6 separate regions of the Homo sapiens genome follow, and all the other regions are reported to be linked to region 4. The links are microRNA targets in miRTarBase. Many come from high-throughput screens and were not tested one by one. Region 4 holds a microRNA gene; each other region holds the end of a gene's coding sequence.

Region 1 (4,103 bases), not on the chromosome of region 4:
TGTCCCCCAGGCTGGAGTGCAGTGGTGCGATCTCGGCTCACTGCAAGTTCCGCCTCCCGGGTTCACACCATTCTCCCGCTTCAGCCTCCCAAGTAGCTGGGACTACAGGCGCCCGCCACCACACCCGGCTAATTCTTTGTATTTTTAGTAGAAACGGGGTTTCACCGTGTCAGCCAGGATGGTCTCGATCTCCTGATCTCGTGATCCACCCACCTCGGCCTCCCAGAGTGCTGGGATTACAGGCGTGAGCCACCGCGCCCGGCCTATTATTTTTTTAAGATGACGTCTCACTCTGTCACCAGGCTGGAGTGCAGTGGCGCAATCTCGGCTCATTGCAACCTCTGCCCCTGGGTTCAAGCCATTCTCCTGCCTCAGCCTCCCAACTAGCTGGGACTACAGGCATGTACCACCACACCCGGCTAATTTTTTGTATTTTTAGTAGAGATGGGGTTTCACCATGTTGGCCAGGATGGTCTCGATCTCTTGACCTCGTGATCCGCTAGCCTTGGCCTCCTAAAGTGCTGGGATTACAGGCGCGGGTGAGCCACCGCGCTGGGCCTTTTTGTTGTTGTTGTTGTTATTATTATTATTATTATTATTATTTTGAGACAGAGTCTCACTCCGTCACCCAGGCTGGAGTCCAGTGGTGCGATCTCGGCTCACTGCAACCTCTGCCTCCCAGGTTCAAGCGATTCTCCTGCCTCACCCTCCCAAGTAGCTGGGACTACAGGTGCATGACACCACACCTGGCTAATTTTTTTTTTTTTTTTTTTGAGATGGGGTCTTGCTCTGTCCCCCAGGCTGGAGTTTAGTGGCACGATCTCGGCTCACCGAGATTGGAGTTTCACCATGTTGGCCAGGTCGGTCTCGAACTCCTGACCTCATGATTCACCTGCCTCGGCCTCCCAAAGTGCTGGGATTACAGGCATGAACCACCACGCCCGGCCAATTATGCTATTATTATTATTTTAGAAACAGTCTCACTCTGTCACCCAGGCTGGAGTGCAGTGGTGCCAACACAGCTCACTGCAGCCTTGACATCCTGGGCTCAAGCCATCTTCCCACCTCCGCCTCCTGAGTAGCTGGGACCACAGGAGCATGCCACCATGCCTGGGTCTTTTTTTTTTTTTTTTTTTTTTTTGTAGAGATGAGGGTCTCACTATGTTGCCCAGGCTGGTCTGGAACTCCTGGCCTCAAGTGACCCGCCCGCCTTGGCCTCCCAAAGCGCCGAGATTATAGGGGTGAGCTACCCCACCCGGGCCCTAATCCTGTTATTTTTATTACTGCTATCGTTACACCCAAGTCATTCAAGACCGGGCCTCCATTTCTGGGTCCCAAGCCAGCTGGTGTCTTAGGGCTGCCCTAAGCCATCTTGTCTATCCTGTGTGCCCTCCCAAAAGACCTCCTTTCTCTCCCTCCCCTCCCGCTCTGCCTCAGCCCCTCCCGGGCTTGTCCACTGCCTGGAGAGGCACTGAGGCCCAGAGGCGGCCAGAGGCTGCCCAAGGACTAATGCTGGGTCTCTCTTCCCGTGCCTCCAGAGCACCCATGCGGCACCCCAGGCCCCAGGCTGCCCATCCCACAGCCGTGGGGGCGGCCTGAAGCCTTGAGAGAGGAGACAAACTGAGGCCTGGACACCCCAAAATGGCTTGAGTCTTTATTTCCTTGGTGAGGCAGGGCCCCAGGGTGGGGTGGGCTGCCTGGCTGAGGCTCCTGTAGACCCACCAACCTAGGGGCACTTTTCTGGGCACCACAGGTAAGGCACTGCCTGGGGGCTGGAGGAGGCTGGAGGAGGATGCCCAAGCTCCCCACATTCCTCACCCCAGACCGGGGAAGCTGGATATCCTCCGTGTTGTCCTCTCCCCATAGCTGGTCTGAGGCTGTGGTTTACACGCAGGCACAGGTAGGCGATTCTGAGCATCAACGCAGATGGAGGGGAGGGTGAGCCGTCGTGGGAGAACTGGCCCAAGACCAGCACCTGGCTGGTGTCGCCAGCCCCGGCTGCATTGGTGGGTGAGGCAGGTCTGGCTGGAGTCTGGGTCTGCAGGCCTGGCCGGGGCAGGTTGTGGGGGACCAAGGAGCCCTGGGTGTGAACCCCACTGTGGAGGCAGCAGGCACCTAGTGGTGCCACTGGGACACCCGGCTCCAGGACTCCGGATGTCACACATGCGTGAGTCTTGGCGTCTACACCCCCCTCGGGGCCAGTGGGTGAGCAGTGGCCCGTGGTCCCCGCCAGAGCTCCCCCAGAGTGGACTTGGCTCCGCCGGACACAGTGCCCTGCTCTGAGCTGCCGCTGGCTGCTCCACGTCTGAGACCACGCGACGTTGCCTCATGAACTGACGTGGACAGCAGCAGGGGAGACGCTGGGTGGTTCTGTGGCCAAGCACAGCCCGTGTCAGGAGCACAGGCCGTGCCCTTTCCCAGGGGGCACACTGGGCATTTCTCAATGGCCTTCACAGGACGCAAAGGGGCACACAGAGGCAGTGGGGAAGCTGGAGTTCTTGGGCTGGCAGGGAATGGTGGCAGCCTTCTTGGCCTTCATGAAGGGCCTGGCTTGCTGGGCTAAGGTCACAGTGTTCTGAGGTCCCCACACGCACTCAGACTAGACCCTCCGTACACACCCAGGCTAGACCCTCCATACTCACCCAGGCTAGACCCTCCATACACACCCAGGCTAGACCCTCCATACTCACCCAGGCTAGACCCTCCATACACACCCAGGCTAGACCCTCCATACTCACCCAGGCTAGACCCTCCATACTCACCCAGGCTAGATCCTCCATACACACCCAGGCTAGACCCTCCGTACTCACCCAGGCTAGACCCTCCGTACTCACCCAGGCTAGACCCTCCGTACTCACCCAGGCTAGACCCTCCGTACACACCCAGGCTAGACCCTCCGTACACACCCAGACTAGAGGCTTGGGGCTGAGAAAAGCAGTCATGCCTCTTCAGGAATTACCAGCAGAGAATGCCCAGCCCTCTTGATAGTAGCAATAATTAATAGGTTTATCCCCAAAGGAGCGGAAGTGTGGAATCCTCCCCGGCAATAGGTCTTAGGGTAGGGGCTGGGGCATCCTAGAGAAGGGCCCTAAATCAGGCGCTCAGTGTCCGGAACGCAGGTCTATCCCACCCACCAGCCGGCCCCCAGGCCTCCCTTCCTCAGTCCTTCCAGGATATCGTCAGGGAGGTTCTGGGATCCCCAAGTGGTCCGAATCCGGGCTCTAAGGAGTGTCCGTGGCATATAAATTAGACTCTGCTGTGGCAATAAATAACAGGGGATGATGGGGGGCCTCGGGCACCAGGCCCAGGCCTGTCCTGCAGGCTCACACGAAGTTCTCTTCCTCTTCTGCAGACTCACCACCTGGCGGCTCCTCAGGGGTGCCTGCAAGGGTCGATAAGAGCATTGAGGGCGCAGGGCAGGGGGTTCTCCGGCCCCCAGGACAGGCCTGTGCCCCCGCCCTGCGTCTGCACCTGCGCAGCTGCCCGCGTGGCGCACGCCGATGGAGCGGCCCAGGAAGCAGGTGGCCTGGCGCATGTGGCACGAGGAGATGTAGGTGACGTTGTTGTTGCCGCAAAGCTCCTGGCCGGGGCTGGAGGGCACAGGGCAGGGCGCCGCTCGACACACCACGCAGTGGGCGCTGCCCGTCTGGTCCACGACGCACGACTGTGGCCGCGGGCACACCACGTGCTCACAGGACTCTGCAGGCCGGGTGCCAGGGGAAGTTCAGGGGACATCTCGCTGAGAACCCCGCAGGGCTCTTGGCCCCAAGACCCACCCTTAACCCCCAAGATGCGAAAACCCTCTGGTAGGAGACACAAGCACCCCCCCGCCCCCCGTGAGCCCCCCTCTCCATTCCACCCCTCAGGCTCCACCCACAAGCCCTGCCCTTCCCATTGTACCCAGGAGCCACACCTCTTTCGTGAGCTCCTGCCCCTTATGCTACCCAAAGCCCCGCCCCTCCGCGACTGCGGGGCCGCCCACCCAAACTCCACCCACAAATCCCCGCCCATCTCCACCCAGGAACCACGCCCCAGCCAAGAGCCCCGCCCCTTACATGACCCAGTCTCACCCCCCTGGTTCCATCATGCCCCTCTGGTTACAC
Region 2 (4,103 bases), not on the chromosome of region 4:
ACCTGGCCTGGCTGTCAACTTCCCCTCGAACCATGGGTTTGCCTTGTGGACCCGCAGCTTCCCCTCTGCCTGCTTCTGCTCTGTCGCGCCTTCGGAAGGGCATGCTGCTCTCTCCCCTCCACTCCCTCCTTTACACATGAGGACCCTGAATCCCAGAGGTGCAGTCATGTACCCAAGGCCACGTACCTGCTGGTGGCAGAGCTGGGATGGGACCCTGGGACCTTAAAGAGAGCAAGTCCAAACCCACTCCTAAGAAGCCGGTGCTGCTGAGCTGCCTACCCCTGCTCCTACAGCAAGGTGATCCTGAGATGCCAGGGCTGCCACCCTCCCCTGGGCTCTTGCTCTGAATTCGAGACATACAGGATGCACTGTCCCTTTGCCTCTAGAGCCTCCAGTTCTAGGTCTGCAGTGGGAGGGCTGCCTTCCAGCTACACAGGGGCAAGGGAGCAGCTGCAAATTCAGTCTCTCAGCCCAGGCAGGAAGCCTGATGGAGTCAGGATGGGGATCAGTGGGGTCAGCATTCTGGATGGGATAGGGGCACAGGACAGGGAGGTCAGTTCGGATTTGGGTCCCTCTAAGGGAACTGGCCAGGGTGTGAAGCAGCCAGGTGCAGACAGGGATAGGCTCACTAGGCGTGTGACTTTGTGACCTTGGGCAAGGCCCTGCCCTTCTCTGGGGCTCAGGCTTGCTTGTCATCTGCAAAAAAAATGAGGCTCGAACAGAACTCTCAGGTACTTTCTAGTTTCATGAGTCCCTGAATTGTGAAAATAAAAAATTACCACTGAGAAACCATATACACTTCCAGACTGGTGGCTGCCTAGCCTGGCCTCTGCTCCTTGACAGAGGGGCTGGCCCTGGTGTTTGAGCTTGTGTGCTTGAATTGGCCTCAGGCCCACCGTGCCTTTTCTCATCTCAGACAGTACTCTTGCTCCTTCAGTTGCCACGCTGGCTCCCACCGGCCTCTTTCCAGATCATGAAGGTATTTTTCCTTCATCAAATTGAGAGGAAGTCCGTAGTAAAGCTGCCCGTTGACCAGGTAGTGCCGAGAGAATCGGTAGGTCACATGGATTCCTAAAGGTCCCCTGATCAGCCACAGTTTGATTCATGTTCTGATGCCCTCCCAGATGATGCCACCATTAGGTCTGCTGGGGCTGGGGGTGAGTCCCAGATTGCCCTGGATGTTATCTGTAGAGGATAGGAAGCGGCTGCTCTGGGGCCAGTGGCCAGTAAGGTCCCCAACCCTGGGGCCCAGCTCTCCCTTCCAGCTGATTACAGGCTATGGCAGGCTCCATAACCTCCCCAATTAGCCGGAGGCCAGGCCCAAGGCCTTTCTGATAACCTGAGCTCCAGTGGCAGCCGCTGTGGGGCCAGCTTATCTGGTCTCTCTTATCCTCACCCTTCCCCCACATACTCAAAGAGTTGCCCTGACTTCAAGCAGATGAATAACCAGATTGTCCTGCAAGCTCAGCCGGCAAGTCCAGCCCTACACCCACCACTTTCCCTGCCTGGGGGAGGCCACAGCTGTTTTGCCCCTGCTGGAGGGGAAGGGCCGGGCCAGGGAGGACTCCTGACTCTGTAAGCTGCCAGCCAGTTCCCTGAATGGTTGAGAGAGCCCCTGGCAGCAAGGTCTCTGCCACATCCACGTGTCCTGGGGTGGTTTCAGAGGGGCTCATGCTTCCTAGGGCAGCTGAACCCATCCCCAGGAAGACAGGCCATGGGCAGCATGCACAGGTAGCCTGGTAGCACTCTCCTCCTTGTCCCTTTTTGATTGAAACATGGCTGTAGCTGGGGGTAGGGGCAGTGCCAGGCCCATCAATAATTCAGCAAGATGGGGAAAAGCTGCAGCTCCTCCAGCACCCCCTGCTGCTGGGGCCAGGCTAGTGTTCGCAAGCATGCCTCAGTCTGGCATGTGACTTCTCGCCCTGCAGGTGCCCTGGCAGGAGGGACTGGCTTATGCCACCCTGTGCAGGATCGTCTTCTCAGCTTACAGAGCCTAGTGTGATTCAACAACCCTCCATCTCTGCCCCCAACATGCCCAACTGATCTGGTGGAGGGAACTGAAGATGAAGGCCTCTCAGGCACCATGGATGGGATGGGTGTGTGTGAAGGGGGCAGGGTCCCCAGGAGCTGCCCCAGGTCTGGCTGGACAGTTGCACGGGAAGTCCTGTTTGTGAACTCAACGTTTCCACGGCTTTTCCATTAAACTTTACCCCAAATCACACCTGGCTCTGTGGGTTTCCTTCCATTCTCCAAGGCCTCCCTGGGGTCTCTGGGAAGTGTGGGCCAGGGAAGGGGGCAAAGGACTAGCATTCGTCTCCTTCCTGCTCAATGCACCATTTTTTCTCCCTGTTCCTGTCTCTGTTGCCACTTACTTTAGGTCCGGAAGTGGTGGTGGTGGGGCGGGGGGACAAAATCAGGAACGTGTCATCTGAGGGTTCCGGCCAGGTTTCATGAGATACCCACCTTCACCTGACCACCCTTCCATCTTCTGAGTTAAAAAGAGGCAATTACAACAAGGTGCCCCCCAGATGAGGCTTTGCCAGACTCTCCCCTTGACAGCAACCCACCAGCACATGGCAAGCCCTGATCCCCAGGGAGGAGGGTCCAACCCTGTGGCACCCCAAGAACTCATTGCCTCTGGTAACAGGCAAGATGCTTAGAGAATGGGCTTCTTAAATCAGGCCCCATCCAAATTCCAGGACAAAAGTTCTTCCCATTCCAATCCTCCACTGACTCCTTCTGCCCCCAAGTTGCACATGAAAGGGGGTGTTGGGATCCTGGGCACTCAGGCCATAGGACTCTGCTCAGCATTTGGAGAGGACCCTTACCCCAGCAACTCAGGGATGGACACCAACTGCAGCGTGATTTATTGGACAAGACGTGCACTTTTCAACAGGGCCTCAGTAACCACGGTTTCCTTCACTGATCAGTACAGGACCAGGGTAAAGGGGCTTAAAGATAAGAAAGACAAACTCTTCCCATGAACAGATGGGGAAAGAAAGGAGGAAGAAGAGGCATGTCCTCCCTTCCTCCTTCCCTAGTACTCTGGGCCTCCGTTCACCCCGTGCTGGAGTGGGGCTGACCAAGGGAAGCTGGGGGCAGTGTGTGTCACAGCCAGACATGAGCTGAGGCTGTGACTGTCCACTCAGGGTCAAAATGGCCAGGTGGACGATCAACTCTGTCCCCACTCAGGCCCCCAGATCTGGTCACTGTTCCAGGCTCCCCCCACCCGCCCCACCGTGGGTATGGTTAAAAAATACAAAAGCGGATCCAATGCAGGATGTCATATGCAAACATACACAGGGACCGAGCTTCTACAGTCTCTCCTGGCCACAGCCTCCACCGACAGGTGTGGCAGAGGGCAAGTGCGCTGAGGTGCTTGGAGAAGGGTCTCTTCTCCATCCAGGTAGGATGGGCGGCTGCTGTCACTAAGCTTGGGGAAGGTGGTTGATGAAGGAAGAGCAGAGACTGAAGGGTAGGACCAGAGCGGGGCTTCTCCCCTCCTCCAGCAGGGGAGGGGGCTGGCCAGTCAGAAGCAGGTTGCTGGTACCTACGGGAAGCCAGTCGGGAAGAGGCTGAGGGGCTGGCTCTCATTGGTGGGCAGCGGAGATCGGTAGCCATCAAAGTTTCTTGGTATGCTGCCGCTGGTGGAGCCTGAGCTGTTACTCAGAGTCTCGATGCTTCCCTCTCGCTGAAGTTCTGCAAGACACAGGAGAGGGCCAGGCCTGGTTAGAGTTGGGTCTGGGGAGTGGGGGCACCATCTGGGCCAGGCTGCCTGCCTTGAGGCACCATTCTGGGTTCACTTGTGTCCTTCCGCAGGGGGATCCCCGCCTGCTCCCTGGATGGGCAGGGGGCAGCTCAGGTCACAGGAAGGCTCAGCCAGGGGAGGGAAAGCCCCCTGGCTGGCAGACTCTGGTGTGAGAGCACCGTCTCCCTGCTGCGGGAAGCCCTTTAGGCCCGAAGCACGGCCACCCTGACGATGTGTGTGGACTACACAGCTCTTCATGAGCCCGTACCCACGCCTGCACACACTCATGCTCAGCCAGCATGCCCCCAACTCCACAGTGCCTTCTGTCCCGGCTCTACAGGGGAGGCAGGCGGGG
Region 3 (4,103 bases), not on the chromosome of region 4:
TCTTTCTAACCAGACTAGTGCTGCCCCGAGTCATTCAGGAATTCAATCTGAACTCTTGGTGACACAAAAATTATGTAGAAATTTAAATGGAAACCAAAGTAGTGTCTTCTGTTGTCTAATAAGGAAAATGCTAAACAAAAGCAAAAACAAAAAACCACTTAACACCAAGTTCTCTTCCAAAAAAGCCAAACATACAACACTGTTATTAATAAGCAAAACCTCTTAGGGTTAAAAGTGTAATTTTATTTAGATGTTACTTGTACATAATCTATAGTAAGATATACAAACAGATAAAAATTGTTTAACAGTTTTTTTTAATACCACTTTAAATTCAATTTACAACAGCATTGGTAATACTGCAAGATGACAGATACTATGATTTATAAAACAAAAATTACTTGCTACTCTGGCTGATACATTCCCACTAGTCTTTAATGGATTAATATGTATCATGTATTTTAATTGCAAATTATTATAAAACTTTTACAACCTAGCCACTTGGAGCTCAGAAAACATTTTGATGTTCTAAAAACTTACTGAGATGAAAATGTTAATTTTTGAATAGTATCCTTAGTAAAGAAAAACATCAGTGTAGCCAAGCTTACGGTCTGGGGCTGACAGTGCAAACTCACTTGCCTTGTGCTCCGCCGCCTCCTGTGTGCGCAGCCATCGGGGACTGGGCAATCTTCCCATCCCTTCCCTAGGTCTACGCTATGAGAGAAAAGCTTAGGAGACATTAAACTAAAACAGACGTGGAGAAATAATACGAGGGACAATTTAAAATTACCTTACAATTTATAACTATAATTTAAAACACAAAGTTTGGAGAAATGAAATGTGCTTTTGGATGTTTCTTCTCCATTTGTTTTGGTAAATAGTTTTTGAAAATGAAACTGAAAATTCAAATCTTCTCTTTATTCTTTTCATTGTAATACCATATTAGAAAAGATCTGGATTTAAATTTCAGAATAAATTGAATTTGCTGGAAAAATACTCTAAAAATAATCTAAATTGGATTTCAGTCATTTTCCATTCTTTTAAATGTTATGGTACACAACAGGGCAAAAGCTTTTTCGCAAGTCATAAAATTGAGTTGAAAATAACTTGTTGATTCAGCTACAGGAAGACAACTAACAATTAACAGGCTCATGAATATTTATGAATAAAGTGCCACTAATTTTATTGTAATAAGATATAAATAGAATAAATCCTGACATGGATAGTAGCTTCTGTGTTCTCTCCATCCTGAGAACAGAAGGGCCATAAAAAAACAAAGAAGCATTACCAAAGGGGAGTTCTAGACCCACACGGGGAACTCCTAATACAAAAGCAACAAGAAAGACAAGTAAGACTTTAAAAGTTGCAGAAGTCCTAAGAATAGCGCCAATGTAGTAGGCCCTTTTTAACAACAACAAAAAAAAAAAAAAGAGAGAGAGAGAGAAATTAGAAATTTAGAAGTTCATTAATAACTGTTACTTATATTCAAGGAATTTATAGTGACAGCCTAGTGGTGACCAGCTCTAGGAAAAGACGCTGAAGAGGACGCTCCCAGCACCTGGGACAGAGGAGAGAACAGACACACCAGGGAAGCAGCCTTGGAAAGGGGATGCAGACATGAGGCTTTTCAGGGCTTCAGATCTACATGACTGCACCCAATGGACAGGCTCTGTACAATCACTGCCCACAAGCCCAACAGGTAGCCACTCGAGACACACACACTGAGGGGACTTCGGGGCTGGCTGACTTGCTCAGATGCATTTTAACAAAAACCCCCATCACCATCCTGCTCACATTCCTACCGTCACCTCAAACATCTCTGCTTTTAGCTCCAGATTCTTCTCAACATAACTGAGTAACTAACCACAATGGATATGAAATACTGTTGAGTAGGTTAAAGTCCTTAATAAGTCAAGCGTCTTAGCATATTTTTGAAGTCGTATCTATAATCAAAGCCTGGAGCACCTGTTTGTTCAACACAGTTATCTTTCATCCAGAATTACAAAATATAGAAGCTGTCATTCTTGAGTTTCCCCATGGGTCCCTGGTATTGCCCACGTGGGAACAACAGGAAGGGTGGAGGTGAGGGCACAGCACTGTACTACAGCTGCAGGGCTGATCAAGGGAATCTCATGAGGTGCTTTTTATCATTTAATGTGCCAACAACAGGAGGACAACCATGTGCTTCTAGAACAGGGTGAAGGCCCTCCTCACGGGAGTGATCCCTAATCTGGCCCCAGCACCGTGAAAGGTGAATAGCTGTCAATATCTACTTTCACCTAAACCTAAGCTTTTAAAATTCTGACCAAGTGGTGAAAGGTGCCATCTAAAGTGCTCTCTGTTGCTCGCTGAGGAGCTAAGAACTCCTGCGGCTCACTCAGGACACAGGTGTCAGGAAACTAAAGGAGCAGGGCTCCTTTGCAGCCCAGGCCCTGTGCCGCAGCTCTGCCCAGCTCAGCGGTGTAGCTCCCAGAGTCATGGACTGCTCGCATCTGTTCTGGCCGGCTGGTGCCCACACTGGAGAGACTGGCAAGTATCTTGAGTGTCATCCCCAATGGCCCCAGGAAGGAAAATGGACTCTGTTCTTCACTTTCATTACTGTTGAGCTGCTGAATTCTCTTGCAAAAACCATCAACAGGCATTTACTAAGCAAATGCCCACAGGGAACCCAGCCTGAAAAGGGCCCTTCCAATTTCATATTTGACAGGCATGTGCAGAGGTAATGAAATTATTCAGCAGAGCATCAGATTCACTCAGAGGCTACCAAGCCAAGAAACTGAAAGCAGAAACACTGGATTCTCCCTGTTTGTTGAACCTTTCCCTCTAAAACCAACTTATTCAGAAACACATCCTTTAAAAAAACAAAAGGAAAAACCAAAGCGGTGAAACAATATCACTTACTGGTTGGAAGACATCACTCTGACATAGTCATTAGTCTTGCAGAGACCTAACACCAGGCAGCTTCACAAACACACAGCAAGTCTGCAGAGTTATATTGATCAGTAAGAGTAAACCCAAACTGCACTAAATACTCTCATGGCCAAGAGGAAAGCAGATGCTGTTTTCAGGACAATGTGATAGTGACAGCCTATTTCCTCATGTGCAGCACAATTTGCTATGTTTAGTGGCACTTAAGTATTACACAGTAAATACTGAAAAGACCCAGAATTTTTGGATGTGCAGAAGCAATATCACATTGTTTATACAAAAGGTGCTATGCTACGGGATTAGAATACCACTATTTGGGTGTAGAGACCACTTAAAATCTTCAACACGCTCCCACACGCGGCCTCTCCGCCGGCCTTTGCTCAGTCGGACCAGTCGTTCTCGTCGAACTCTGAGTCGTCGTCAGAGTCGCTGTACTCCACGGCAATGCGCCGGGACAGGATCGTGGCCACGTCATTCCCCACTGGCTCCCGCTTGGCCTCCTGCTCCCGCTGCTCCTGCACCTTTTTCAGTTGAATTCCTGCAGACACAACACGTGGTTCAGAATCACATCCTTTTGCTGGCTCCAAATTAAAGATAAACGAACAAATATGTCTATTGGACTTTTTTTTCTACTGACACTAAGGACAGAAAGTTTTAGAAATTTGAGGGGAGAAAAGCTCAGGGAATATTAAAAGTTTCATGAGAAAAAACATGCATTCAAAGTGAGAAGTTTTTTTGTAACAAAGTAATGTGTTAAAATATTAAAAATTCCTAATTTCAGTGTACCTGAACACCATTAGAGAAAACTGTGGAGCTGCACCATCCCAGACAGCAGCCACTAGGCACATATAGCCTTAAAAGCATGAACTGACATGTGGCTAGTGGCTACTCTCTGGGACGCTGCAGGCTGGAGCATTTCTATCACCACAGGACATCTACTAGGCAGCAACAGCATCCAGAGCCTTGGAAACAGTGTTCTATGCTACTCACTCTCAGCTAACCCAAGAAGTAACTGAGAAACCTTTATTTCAACAATTACTGTGGAAACAAACATAAAATACAATCATCTACTTTCTAGCTTAGTAACAAAGTAAGATATTTGATGATTTAATGTTTATCCATTTTTTTTTTTTTTTTTGAGATTGGGTCTCACTCTGTGACCCAGGCTGGAGTGCAGT
Region 4 (4,103 bases):
GGTCAGGAGGTCAGGAGGCCAGGTGGGCTTTATCACTTGGGGGCAAGGAGCCCTTCAAGAGCAGGGGATTGTGTAGGGAACGTGAGCACTGTGCGAGGAGCCTTCCCACACCCAGGCAGTGACAGAAGAGTGTGGTCATGGTGGCCGGTGGCGCTGGGGGATTTATTCCAGGGAAGGCAAGCTTCCCAGCTTAACAGCCTGGGCAATCCCACCAGGGGGTGCTGCCCCCAGGCTAGGCAGCCCCCCAGCCTCAGGCAGGGTCCAGGGATGAGAGCGCCTTTCTTTAAATATCACCAGGCAGTGACTAAAGCATCCCCCTTATTCCCCAGAGACAGAGCCCGCAATGCACCTTCCCAGGGGGCCTGCCCACAACTTCCTGGGAGGAGGTCAGTGGTGCCCACCAGGCAGGACTGGGCTTGGAAACCGAGTTGGCCCAACCTCGCCTAGTCCTCCCTTCCATCCACCCATCCAGCCTACGGTGTTCAAACAGTCCTGGGCCAGGCTCTGCAGGAACCTGGGACGTCAGTGGCTCGTGACTCCACAGGCAACTGTCCCACTCCACTGCTTGCCTGGCCTAGGGCTAGACTCGAACAGATGCAAGAAAGATGGAGACCAGCTCGTCCAGGGCATCTTGAGGGTTCTGGGGTGCCACGGGCACTGAGGACGGAAATTAGTTGGGATCAGATTGTGGGAGCTTAAAACGCCAGGCCACTAGATTGGCCGCCACTGAGGAGAGGACAGGAGGCTTTTAAACCTTCAAGGCTGAGCCACCAAAGGAAAGATTGGCATTGAGGGTGTCAAGACAACAGAGCCAGGACTCTAGCCTGGGCCTCTGGACTCCCTGTCCAGTGCTGTCTCCCTGCTGTGGCCTCTCAGGCCCCTAGCGCCCTCCATGGCCTTTTCTCCTGCAGATCCAGAGAAATGCCTACTCCATCTTCTTTGATGAGAAGTTCTCCATCCCCCTGGATCCCACAGCCCTGGAGGAGAAGAGCCTGCGGTTTTCTGTATTTGGCATCGATGAGGATGAGCGCAACGTCAGCACGGGGGTGGTGGAGCTGAAGCTTTCTGTGCTTGACCTCCCGCTGCAGCCCTTCAGTGGCTGGCTCTATTTACAGGACCAGAACAAGGTAAGTGACTTGCCTGCTCGTCCACCTCGGAAGAGCGTGCACACACATACACTTCCAGGAAGGGACTCCATCATCCTCATCATCCTCTGCAATAGCCTGAGCCCCATCATCATTAGGAGAGCAGAGAAGAAGACCTGAGCCACATCCGAGGAAACTGCTTGCTGCAGGCAAATTTCAAAAACATCCCGACCACTGTTTACAGCTCGTCTGCTGCTTTGCCACCAAAGCTTCAGAGGTTCTACCCCTACTGAGCTTCTGCTAGAGAAACATTCCTCTAGCCTTAGAGGGGATGATTTCAGACAGACACCAAGCTGCACTTTAGTTTTATAATTGTAGGAATGCTCACAGAACATCATTGTTGTTTAATCAAAGAATCTAATTCCATTCCACTCTGATCGCTGTGTATTACTACCGCAGTGTTTTCCTTGGCCTGCAATGAGGGAACGAAACTACATTTGATAGCTACATTTGACAGGCCGCCTCTGACCCTCCGCCCCAGGCAGGACCCTCCCGGTGGAAGGGAGGAGTGGGGCATGCTCCATGCAGTGGCGGGGGGTGGGTGGCTGTCCCTTTCTCCAGGCTGTCCCTGCCTGCCTGGAGCCCTGTGGTAAGGGGCCCCCAGTGCAGCCACTTCTCTATGGAGAAGGAAGCCCCAGCCTTTCCCTGGCAACCAAGGCTTTCCCTGGACCCCTCAAGTCGGGTGGGGAGAAGCCCTCTGAGCCACCTGTCTGTCCCCCAGGCCGCCGATGCTGTGGGGGAGATCCTGCTCTCCCTCAGCTACCTCCCCACAGCCGAGCGCCTCACCGTGGTCGTGGTTAAGGCCAAGAACCTCATCTGGACCAACGACAAGACCACAGCGGGTAAGGCCCAGCCGGCAGCCCGGCTCCTCCACGTAGCTCAGTGGAAGCTGTGGCCCAGCTGCTGTGCTGTGGGCACCCGGAGGCATCGGCAGGTGTGGGACACAGTGCCAAGGTCCCCCTCAGCTTTGCTGAGCCCAGAAGTCATGCAGATGGATAGGGGGTGGCATGGGGACAATTAATCCAGCCGGGGAAACATGAGATCCCTGGAGGGTGGCAGGGGCCCCTGTGAGGGCAGAGTGAAGGGGGTCAGAGTGATGCGGGGGTCTCAGGGCAGGAGGCCGCACTCAGGGCTGGGGGCACTGGGCAGGGAACCAAGGTGGGCATCTGTTCCCTGGAACTGGAATTCATGGTGGAGACTCCATTCCCAGAGACAGGGCAGTATCCCAGACTCCAAAAAGGGACCAGGGCCACGGGGTTGGGGTGGGTGCCAGGCAGGACCCGATGCCTTAGGTCTGCAGGAGTCCCCAGTCCCTCTCAAAGCAGTGACCGTGGAGGCAGCTGTATTCTAGAGAACTGAAGACCAGGGGCTGGGGGAGCCTGATCTATTGGGAGTTGCAAGCCTTGGGGCGGGGGTAGGTGGGGGGGGCAGCTCCAGGCAGGTGCGGCAAGGACACCCCGTGGGCAATAGGTGATGGGCAGACGGCAAGTTGTTATTTCAGAGCCGCACACGGTTGAGTCAGGCTCTGCTGTGCGGGTGCCCGGTGACTCAGGGCTGACGTCTGCACTCGGGCCATTTATAGAAGGAACACGGTGGGGCTGCTGAGTTCCCCAGAGCATCCTAGGAGGGGAGCGCGTGGGCTGTGAGGCAGCTGCCTGAGCACAAAGCCCAGCCCTCACCTGACGTGCTGTGTGAGCCTCAGTTTTCTCATCTGTGAAATGGGAAAAATAATAAAGGACCAATGGCAGGGCTGCAGGAGGTCACAGCAACAGTTAAGCATTGGGGAGTTTGGAGTCGGTGGGTGGAGCCAAACTGGGCAGGGCTGTGGTGAGTGAGTGTGACACTGGCCCTCACCTGTCCGCCTGCCCACAGACCCCTTCGTCAAGGTGTACCTGCTGCAGGATGGGAGGAAGATGAGCAAAAAGAAGACAGCCGTGAAGAGGGATGACCCCAACCCGGTGTTCAACGAAGCCATGATCTTCTCGGTGCCAGCCATTGTGCTCCAGGTGAGGGGGGCTGGGGGATGGGAAGGGGCCAGGTCACCCCAGGGCTCTGGGGCTGCCGCATCTCTCCACCTTCTCTTCTCAGGGCCCCTGCAGGGGTAGTGGTTTGCCTCCAGCCATCACTTTCTAGCAGTTATTGAGTGCCACTGGGGCCAGCCCTAGGGTGGGTGCTGGGGACACAGGCATGGCTTTCTCGGTGCTCACAAGGGACAGGCAGGAGAGTCCCTAATCCACTAAGAGTGTCCTCAGGTGAGGGGGGATTCCTGCAGGAGGGGATACCCAGCTCTGAGGGAGGACCATTCCTGGTGGAGGGAACTGCAGAGGGTTGGAGAGGAGCTGGGGTGAGCCAGGCACCCAGAGTTCCTGCTCTGAATCTCCCAAGCTCCATTTCAGGGTTCTGCTGAACTCCCCAGGTTCGCGTGGTCTTCAGAAGGTGACATGCTCCAGGGAGACCTCTCCCAGCAGGGACATCACAGACCACGGGTGGGGCTTGAAGATAGGGCTTGGGCCCTGCTTGCATGCCTCGGAGGATGGGGCTCGCACCACCTTCCCTCACTATCTCTAGCCCTCCTCGGCACTCCTGACAATGAGAAAGTCCTTTGTGCCTTGAGCCAAAACCTGCCTCCATAGCCCCAGGGCTGTACAGAACCCGCCTAATCTCCCCCAACCCGGGGACCCCGCCAGCATGTAAAGGCCCAGAATCTGCCTCACTCTGAGTGTTCCTAACCCGGGCACACCCCAGCATCTCTGGCCCATCCTGGGTATCGTAGCCTTCACCTGCCACCCTCGTGGAGCAGGCTGCCCATGTGTCCTCTGCCTCTCCCTGGGTGTCATAGTGCCACTTCTCCACAGCCTCTAAAAGCAAGAGACTTCTTGGGACCATGGGGGAAGTGGAGGAGGAGAGAGATCGGGCTGGGTTTGAGTTTCAGCTCCCGCTCTCATCTCAAGCAGTCTC
Region 5 (4,000 bases), not on the chromosome of region 4:
AATAAAAGTAAATTAAATTAAAATAGATACTGAAAAAAATTTGTGTGGGCTGGGAACAGTGGCTCATGCCTGTAATACCAGCACTTTGGGAGGCCAATGCAGGAGGATCGCTTGAGCCCAGGAGAACAGCTTGAACAACATAGGGAGACCTCATCTCTACAAAAATTAAAAAATTAGCCAGGCTTGGTGGCAATATGCCTGTGGTCTCAGCTACTTGGAAGGCTGAGTTTGGAGGATTGTTTGGGCCAGGGAGGTCAAGGCTGCAGTGAACTGTGATTGTGCCACTGCACTCTAGCCTGGACAACAGAGCAAGACCGTGTCTCAAAAAAGAATAAAAAAACTTGTGTGATTATGCCATGAACTTAATACAGTTAGGCTCATTTTTTTTTAATTGCTAAGGATTGCTTTGTTTTTTCCTTTTGTTCTAATTTTCTTTCATAATTATACAAAACACTTACATGGTTCTAAACTATTAAAAAGGAACATTCAGGTAAATCTTAACTTTCATTCCTGTCCCCTCTACTCTGTTCCTTCCTTCTCCCTATAAGTAAATACAGTTATAAGTTTGTGGTTTATCCTTTCATTGTTTTTTGAAAGCATAAGGAAATACACTCATATCTCCCTCATTCCTTACATAAAAAGTACAATACTCTACATTCTGTCCACATACATTGCTCTTTCACATAACAGTACATCTTGGAGATCACTCCATGGGAGTAAAGAGATATCTTCCCCAATCCTTTTTATAGCTGCATAGTAGTAATTCATTTTGCAGCTATACCAGGCCTGATGAGCATCTGAGTTGTTTTTAGTCTTGCTATTACAAATACTATTGTAATAAGTAACCTTGTACATGCTTCATTTCATATTTTTTTGCCAGTGAATTTTTGGGACAGAATCCTAGAAGTGGAATTGCTAATCAAAGGGTGACTGCACACATAGTTTTGTTTAATATTGCTAACTTCTTCTCCATTAGGGTTTTATCATTTGCAATAACCTTTTAACTGTTTCCCTTCTTCCACTCTTGTCTACCTACACCCATTCTCCCTCATATCTTATAAAATCCTATAAAATACTAATTGAATCATATTACTCTCTTACTTAAAATCTTTCAGTGGCTTCCCATTGCATTTAGAATAAAATCCAATCTCTTCACACTATAAAAACTTAGATGATAGAGCTCCTGCCTCTGTATCAAGTTAGGATTAAGTTTGACTATGAGCAAGAAAGACCCAAAATGACAACAGCTAAAACAAGAGAGAAGTTTACTTCTCTGACAAGTAAGTCTAGAGGAAGACTGCCCAAGGCTGGCACTGGAGTTCACCTTCAAGAAAACCTCAGGGCACAAGCTCCTCCCAGGCCATGCTCTGTCATCCCTAGGACTTGTTCCTCAACCCCAAGACCTAAGAGAATAGCTATAGTACTAGTCATAATATCAATGTTCCAGGCAGCAAAGTTGGAAGAAGGGAAAAGTAAGAAAAGGGGGAAGGGGTACATGCCAGTTGTTTTTTATTATAGGTAAGATTTCTGGAAGCTCTATATGACACTTCAATTTGTATCCCAAATCAGAACATATTCATATGACTATACCTACCTACGAGGAAGGCTGGAAAATATCATCTTTATTCTGGGCAGCCAGGTGCCCTAGCCAAAAATTGGGACATTTTATGCCATGGAAGAAGTCTTTGCTGCACAACCTATTCAGTTTCAGCTCATAATAGGCCATACACCCTTATTCACTATGCTCTAGCCAAAAAACTTCCTTTGTTCTTCAAAGCAGCCAAACTCTTACCTATCTCAAGGTTTCTCCTGCCTAGCACACCCTTCCTCAGATCTTCACATGGCTGGTTCCAACTCATCATTCAGGACTCAGTTCAAAAGGTCACTTCCTCAGACAGACCTTCTTTGACTACTGTATGAAAGGTAGGCCCCACCCCAGTCACCCTTTTTCATATTGCACTGCCTTATTTTCTTCATAGCATTTGTCTCCATCTGAAATTATTAACCTTTTGCCTTATTTCACTAAAATATAATTTCCTCAGAACAAAGACCTTTTTTCACTTCTTCACTGCTATATTCCTATTATGCAGTACAATTCTAAGCACATGGTAGGAGTTTAAGATTAGTTGAATGGATGAATGTCTGACTCCAAAGCCCATGCTTTTCCCATTACATCTACTGCTCCTAGTACATCTGAAATAATATCCCATTCCAGTAGTCAATCTTTGTTTTTTTGAGAATGACAGCCTAATAATTTTCTTTCAATCAAGATTTTTAAAAAATTATTCCTAAAGTAAAAGAAAATCTTATGCTCAGTAAGTAAAAAGAAGAGATTTGGATAAAACATCATGGGCAAGACTCTTAAGTTCCTCGATCTCACAGTTTTCATCTGTAAAAAGAAAGAGTTGATTAAAATTGATTTAATCTATAGATATTTACCAAGCATTATGCTAAACTGGGACATGAAGGTTAAATAAGATAATTTCTGACCTCAAAAGGGGCTCACAGGTGCCTTTCAACTCTACAATTTGTAAGATTCTATATAATTGTTAGTCTGTACCCTCTGTGTTAACAGAAAAAGCCTACCAATTTCCACTACTGAGATATTAATTAAAAGATGTCGAGACATTGATAAACACATTGCTTCATTTTAAAATAAACATTTAATTCAACATTGCAACAGGAGTTGAACTGTATTTAAAACAGAAGCATATTAATGACTAAAAAAATGTGTATATTAATCTTTAGTTCCCTTTTGAGGGGATTTTGATTGCCAGTTCTCCGCAGTGAAATGCTAGGAAAATGTCTTTAGAAGACAGAATTCTTTCTGAATGCAAGTCTAAAATGCTTAAAAGAGATTAAAGGTTTTAAAGACCCAAATCAGAAATATCCATTAGATACATCTCATTTGAATCCTAAGAGTTTAAACATAATAAACGCTGTATTTATTTATTTTATTTCTTTTTTATTTTTTGAGGCAGAGTCTCACTTTGTTGCCCAGGCTGGAGTGCAGTGGTGCAGTCTTGGCTCACTGCAGCCTGTCTTCTGGGTTAAAACGATTCTCCTGCCTCAGCCTCCCCAGTAGCTGGGATCATAGGCATGTGCCACCACGCCCAGCTAATTATTGTATTTTCAGTAGAGAAGGGGTTTCACCATGTTGGCCAGGCTGGTCTTGAATTCCTGGCCTCAAATGATCCACCCACCTCAGCCTCCCAAAGTGCTGGAATTACAGGTGTGAGCCACCAAGCCCAGCCTATATATATATATTTAAAGATGACAAGAAATTAACAACTCAGCATTTTGAGAATGGCATGTCAGGTTATCATGATTAGTACATGGGCACCTGGCTGTGGCTCATCTACTACCATATTCTTTGTTCTTCTAGATCCTTCTTGGCTTCCATCTTGGCAACTCCAAAGGCATGGTGGGGAAAACAGATGCAGAGATAGATGCCTATTTCTCCTGCAGTCTCTTTCAGCATAGCAATTAGGCAAGTTATCAATAAGAGTATATAATCTATAACTTATAGTCCACATAAGGCTTCACTCAATTTGAAAAATTGCCAGTTCTGTCAAATATGCTAACACTCCAATAAGGTATTTATGACACAGAATCTGCAAAAAGAAAAAGAAGGAGACATTTAAAATTAGAATAGTATTAATTATAACAAAGCAGATTGATATTTGAATAATCAATGTTATATTGGTTTAACTTCTAGATTTAATTCATGAAGCTTACCACATGCAATACACTCATTTTTGGCCAGGCACAGTGATTTATCCCTATAATCCCAGCACTTTGAGAGGCCGAGGCAGGAGGATCACTTGAGCCCAGCAGTTCAAGACCAGCCTGGGCAACAAAGGGAGACCTCATCTCTACAAAAAAATTTTAAAATGTAAAAAACAGCCAGGTGTAATGGTATACACCTATAGTCCCAGCTACTCACAAGGCTGAGGCAGGAGGATCACTTGAGCCCAAGAGTTAAAGGTTATAGTGAGCT
Region 6 (4,103 bases), not on the chromosome of region 4:
TGGAAGCCTACACACTCACTGCCTGTTTTCCAGGCTTCTCATGCAGATGTTTTGGGCCAAGGACCAGGTTTAGAATGAGAATTGCTAACAGTTTTAGGAGGATTTTCAAATGGTCCTCATGGCCGAAAGTTTTAGAGAGCTTTAGGTGTGCCGTTTGCAAAAGAGAGAAGATGTGTAGGCAACATTTGTAGAAAAGGTGGCTTCTCATAGTTAAATGACAGAAACTCTTCCAAATTAATGCCGTAAACAGCTGGTGGGAATAGGATTTGCTCCAGCTATGTGCGAGCATAGCCCGGTCATGGCTGGTAAAATTTAAATTACACACAGGCTTTGTTCCAGAAATTTTGCACGTGTGAATCTATTCCACAGAAACAGAAGTACCAGACTGCAATGTAGTATGTACAAGGATGTTTATTGTTTGCAGTGGCAAAAAACTGGAAATAATCTGAAGGCCCATCAACAAGGCAATGATTCAATCAATCATGATACATCTGTATTAAGTGAGATTACGTAGCAATCCAAAAGAATGAGTCAGCTATCTAGATAGCTGTTGTTCCAAAGAGTTTCATGATGCAATGTTAAGTTAGGGAAGCCAAATTGCAGATGAATAAATATTTTACATACATAGTATTTTTAAAAGGCATAATCAAGTTAAAAAGCCCTCACTTGTGTATCTGAGCACAGTTAAGGTGGAGCCTACATCTCAGGCTGGAAGGAGGGGACAGGACGGGGGAAAATGGGTGGGGAGGAAAGAAAACAAAGAGTAGGCAGGGCGTGGTGGCTCACACCTGTAATCCCAGCACTTTGGGAGGCCGAGGCAGGTGGATCACCTGATGTCAGGAGTTCGAGACCAGCCTGGCCAACATGGCAAAACACTGTCTCTACTAAAAATACAAAAAAATTTGCAGGGCTTGGTGGTGGGCACCTGTAATCCCACCTACTTGGGAGGATGAGGCATGAGAATCGCTTAAGCCTGGAAGGTGGAGGTTGTAGTGAGCCAAGATCACGCCACTGCACTCCAGCCTGGGCAACAGAATGAGACTCTGCCTCAAAAAAAAAAGTATAGAAAAATGAGTAGAAAGCATTGAATTAAGTTAAGTAAAAATTTAGAATATAAAAGCTCACTTTTTTATTGCAAATATGAATGTTTACATACGCAAATGCTTAAGAACTAGGAAAGTGCAGGGGAAACAGCAAACACTGACTCAATCAGATGCTGGGATTGTTGTATTATTTTGGTCTGGAATATCTGTTGTAATTTTCATGTCACTTTTACAATAAACTTATATTTTAAAAAGTCAACACTTAGCAGGGGCTACGAAAGCAACGGTTGGCAAAATTATGCACACTGCAAAATGACGATATCCAGAATAATTCAGAAGCCCCTCCCAATGTCTCGCACATAGTAGGCACCCCATTGCCCCTTTGCTAAAGTGAAAAACTAAACTCAGCCTTTATTCCACCCCATGATTCATCAACTTGAGCAAGAATGTTCAGGCACACACGCGTTCGATTAAAAGCCCCATAAACAAATTTTGCATTTGAATCACCATATACACATTCACGTCATGCCCCACTGAAATCTGGTTGCCGGGACTATTAACAGAATGAGAAAAGGCAGCAATTACAGAAAATGAACGACATCATGGCCTAAGCGTTTTCACATCAGAAATGAAGTCATTTGGCTGACGTGGCTGCACGTGCTGTTGTAATTAAACTTAGGAGAGCGAGGAAGTGAAATGTCAGTGTCAGCCTCTGAGTACTTTCTCTTTCTTTCTCTCTTGCCATGGTTATTATTTTTTTAATTAGAAAGCAGGAAATAACCGTAGAGGATATGTTCTGTACTTTTTTCTTGCTCTCTGATCTAGAATTAACAGGACCGTGGAAGCAGAAGGCGAGTGTAGCTCTGGCAGTGACGTGAACCCCAGTCCTGGCTGCAGGGTGGACGTCTCCTCCATGTGCCCAGTGTAAGGCTGTTTCTTTGTGCTGCTCTGCCCCCAAGTCCTCCGCTCACTTTCAATGTTAAAACCTTCCAAATGTGTCCTTGAGAAGAACACTGATAGCTGAGGGGACTCAGCACAAGAGGTGCCCTCATCAGCACTCATGTTCTGCAATGCTTTGGATAAATTGTCTGATAAAATGCATGTTCCCCCCTTACAAACTCTCTTTAAAGGAGAAATGATAATATTCAGTGGCTGTTTTCTCCAAATATAGTTCAACAACTCCTGGGAGTCTCTGAGAGTGGCCTGGAGCGCCTGTAGGAGCCTCTTAGAGCATTCAATTCATTGTTTTAAATTTAAAACAGATCTTAAACATTACTCATATTGTGTTATATATATTTTTAGCTAATAAGGTGGTGTATCAACTCCTGCTTATGGCATGGATTGCATTCTTTATTGGGTCTCCCTAAAGACACAGCTTTATTTTTTAAAGCTTTTTGGTGAGTAATTGTATTTTTGTAGTGACAAGTGGTTTACAGAGATGATGGCCTTCATTAGGCTGTCTTGAAAGAAATGAGAGACTTTGCATAGAACACAGATGTAAAGGGATTATATTTAAAGATACTCATATGAGTGCACATAAAACATGCATGTAGGGTTAGGGGAACATTAGAAGCAAATATGCCACTAACATTTTGTTTTTCTTAAATACATGCAATGTTTCAGGGATGGGAACAGCAAGCACTTACCCTTCTTTTGAAAAAAAAAAAAAAAAAATTGAATCCCAGCACTATGGGAGGCCCAGGTGGGTGGATCACCTGAGGTCAGGAGTTCAAGACCAGCCTGGCCAACATGGTGAAACCCTGTCTCTACTAAAAATACAAAATTAGTCAGGCATGATGGCACACACCTGTAATCCCAGCTACTCGGAAGGCTGAGACAGGAAAAGTGCTTGAGCCTGGGAGGCAGAGGCTGCAGTGAGCCAAAATCATGCCGTTGCACTCCAGCCTGGGCAACAAGAGTAAAACTCCATCTAAAAAAAAAAAAAAAAGAGAAAGAAAATCTTCATGCCACAGGCACATCCTGCTGTATATGTGGTCTGCTCTGGGAATCAGCTTCCAATAACATTTCCTTACAGTATGATTTCTGGGCCTTTGTCTAGCTTTACTTGTATTTTAGTTTAATTCCTTTAATCTATTTTAGTTTAGTTAGAAGGATTAAAATAGCCTCCATGTACCAGTCAAAGTACACAGCCACCAGCTCAGGTGTTTTCATTTATTTCTAAACATGGAGCTTTCACAATTTCATTAGAGATACATGTTTGGATGTGGGTCCCTGTGAGACATAAAGTGATCACCAGACAGCTCTGGAATTGGACAGAGCAGAAAACCTGGGGTTAGACAAGCCAGGGTTGAATCCTGGCTCTGCCACTTTCTAGCTGGTGATGCTGGGTGCAGTACTTCAGCTCTCTGGGCCTCAGTTTCCTTATCTGTAAAACGGGAATACACCTACCTCTAAGAGTTGTTGGGAAGTACTGTGAAGCAGGTGGCGCAGTGCCTGATGTGTTCTTCTCATCAAGCATTTACTACTAATCTAGTGTGCCAGACGCTCTGCTAGGGGCTGAGAATGGAGTGACGGAGAAGCCACAGTCCCCCATCTATCAGAACGCAGGCACATACCAGGGCGCATACGTGAGAGCGGCATTTGCAGTGCGAGTGCATCGCCGCTCCTGGGCACCTTCAGAACACGCGTGGGTTTGGGGGAGAAGAGCTGGGTCACTTGCCAGGATTTGCTCGCTGCTGCACTCTGTACTGCCAGCCTCCTGGCAAGCTTATTTCACCGTGAGCCAGATCAAAGCCAGAAGGCAGAGGAGCACTGGCTGGTGCATGGTGACCCGAAGTCCTGCGCCCCTCTCCAACCAAAACTCGCAATGCTTGAGGGAGCAGAGCTCCTGGACCAGCCGCCAGAGCACCTGCTGGTGGAGCTTGTTGTCTGGCTTCTGGAACTCCCCCTGGTTCGCCGCCTGGGTGGCATTGATGCAGCCGGTGACAAATGCCTCCTTGGTCACATTAGCCTCAGAGCAGCCGTTGTAGTGGATGCCATCGGGGAACTGCCAGTAGTTGGCCTCGTAGTACCTGTTGCCCTCGGCTCCGAAGTCAATGT

The links. Region 4 holds the annotated microRNA hsa-miR-6860 (ACUGGGCAGGGCUGUGGUGAGU, at 2,957-2,978, shown strand). A microRNA usually pairs through its seed, bases 2 to 8, with sites in the 3' UTR of a target mRNA and lowers its output. Matches are read on the target gene's strand: a 7mer-m8 pairs with bases 2 to 8, a 7mer-A1 pairs with bases 2 to 7 and ends in A, and an 8mer does both.
Region 1: miRTarBase lists FSTL3 as a target of hsa-miR-6860. Seed matches in the 3' UTR shown: 7mer-m8 at 2,430-2,436 and 8mer at 1,740-1,747.
Region 2: the mRNA of BCAS3 is a reported target of hsa-miR-6860. Seed matches in the 3' UTR shown: 7mer-A1 at 3,045-3,051.
Region 3: the mRNA of WASF3 is a reported target of hsa-miR-6860. Seed matches in the 3' UTR shown: 7mer-m8 at 677-683.
Region 5: the mRNA of CENPL is a reported target of hsa-miR-6860. The part of its 3' UTR that is shown has no 7-base or 8-base seed match.
Region 6: the mRNA of PRND is a reported target of hsa-miR-6860. Seed matches in the 3' UTR shown: 7mer-m8 at 3,670-3,676, 7mer-A1 at 3,409-3,415, 7mer-A1 at 3,086-3,092, 7mer-m8 at 2,949-2,955 and 7mer-m8 at 1,024-1,030.

What each region holds. Positions count from the first base shown.
Region 1 is chr19:680,929-685,031 of GRCh38, reverse strand. It overlaps FSTL3 (follistatin like 3), which reads right to left. Exons shown (of 5, transcript NM_005860.3): 4 at 3,472-3,699; 5 at 1,647-3,382. The coding sequence ends at 3,324. Among named protein-coding and RNA genes, the nearest start is that of FSTL3, 6.6 kb to the right of the region's middle. RefSeq lists enhancers at 3,001-3,549, 3,550-4,099 and a silencer at 3,920-4,019.
Region 2 is chr17:61,391,573-61,395,675 of GRCh38, reverse strand. It overlaps BCAS3 (BCAS3 microtubule associated cell migration factor), which reads right to left. Exons shown (of 24, transcript NM_017679.5): 24 at 2,845-3,699. The coding sequence ends at 3,551. TBX2-AS1 (TBX2 antisense RNA 1) reads left to right here. Exons shown (of 2, transcript NR_125751.1): 2 at 1,929-2,220. Among named protein-coding and RNA genes, the nearest start is that of TBX2-AS1, 6.0 kb to the left of the region's middle.
Region 3 is chr13:26,685,048-26,689,150 of GRCh38, reverse strand. WASF3 (WASP family member 3) reads right to left here. Exons shown (of 10, transcript NM_006646.6): 10 at 203-3,463. The coding sequence ends at 3,306. The region is part of intron 1 of LOC107984597 (a long non-coding RNA gene); the gene reads left to right. Among named protein-coding and RNA genes, the nearest start is that of GPR12, 74 kb to the left of the region's middle.
Region 4 is chr11:67,042,727-67,046,829 of GRCh38, forward strand. MIR6860 (microRNA 6860) reads left to right here and starts at 2,917; the gene lies at 2,917-2,982. It overlaps SYT12 (synaptotagmin 12), which reads left to right. Exons shown (of 8, transcript NM_177963.4): 5 at 912-1,127; 6 at 1,867-1,987; 7 at 3,018-3,151. RefSeq lists enhancers at 3,370-3,499, 3,600-3,679.
Region 5 is chr1:173,796,906-173,800,905 of GRCh38, forward strand. CENPL (centromere protein L) reads right to left here. Exons shown (of 6, transcript NM_001387287.1): 6 at 2,645-3,614. The coding sequence ends at 3,543. Among named protein-coding and RNA genes, the nearest start is that of DARS2, 26 kb to the right of the region's middle. RefSeq lists a silencer at 1,652-1,852.
Region 6 is chr20:4,724,751-4,728,853 of GRCh38, reverse strand. It overlaps PRND (prion like protein doppel), which reads right to left. Exons shown (of 2, transcript NM_012409.4): 2 at 394-4,103. The coding sequence ends at 3,772. Among named protein-coding and RNA genes, the nearest start is that of PRND, 4.9 kb to the right of the region's middle. RefSeq lists an enhancer at 1,712-1,801.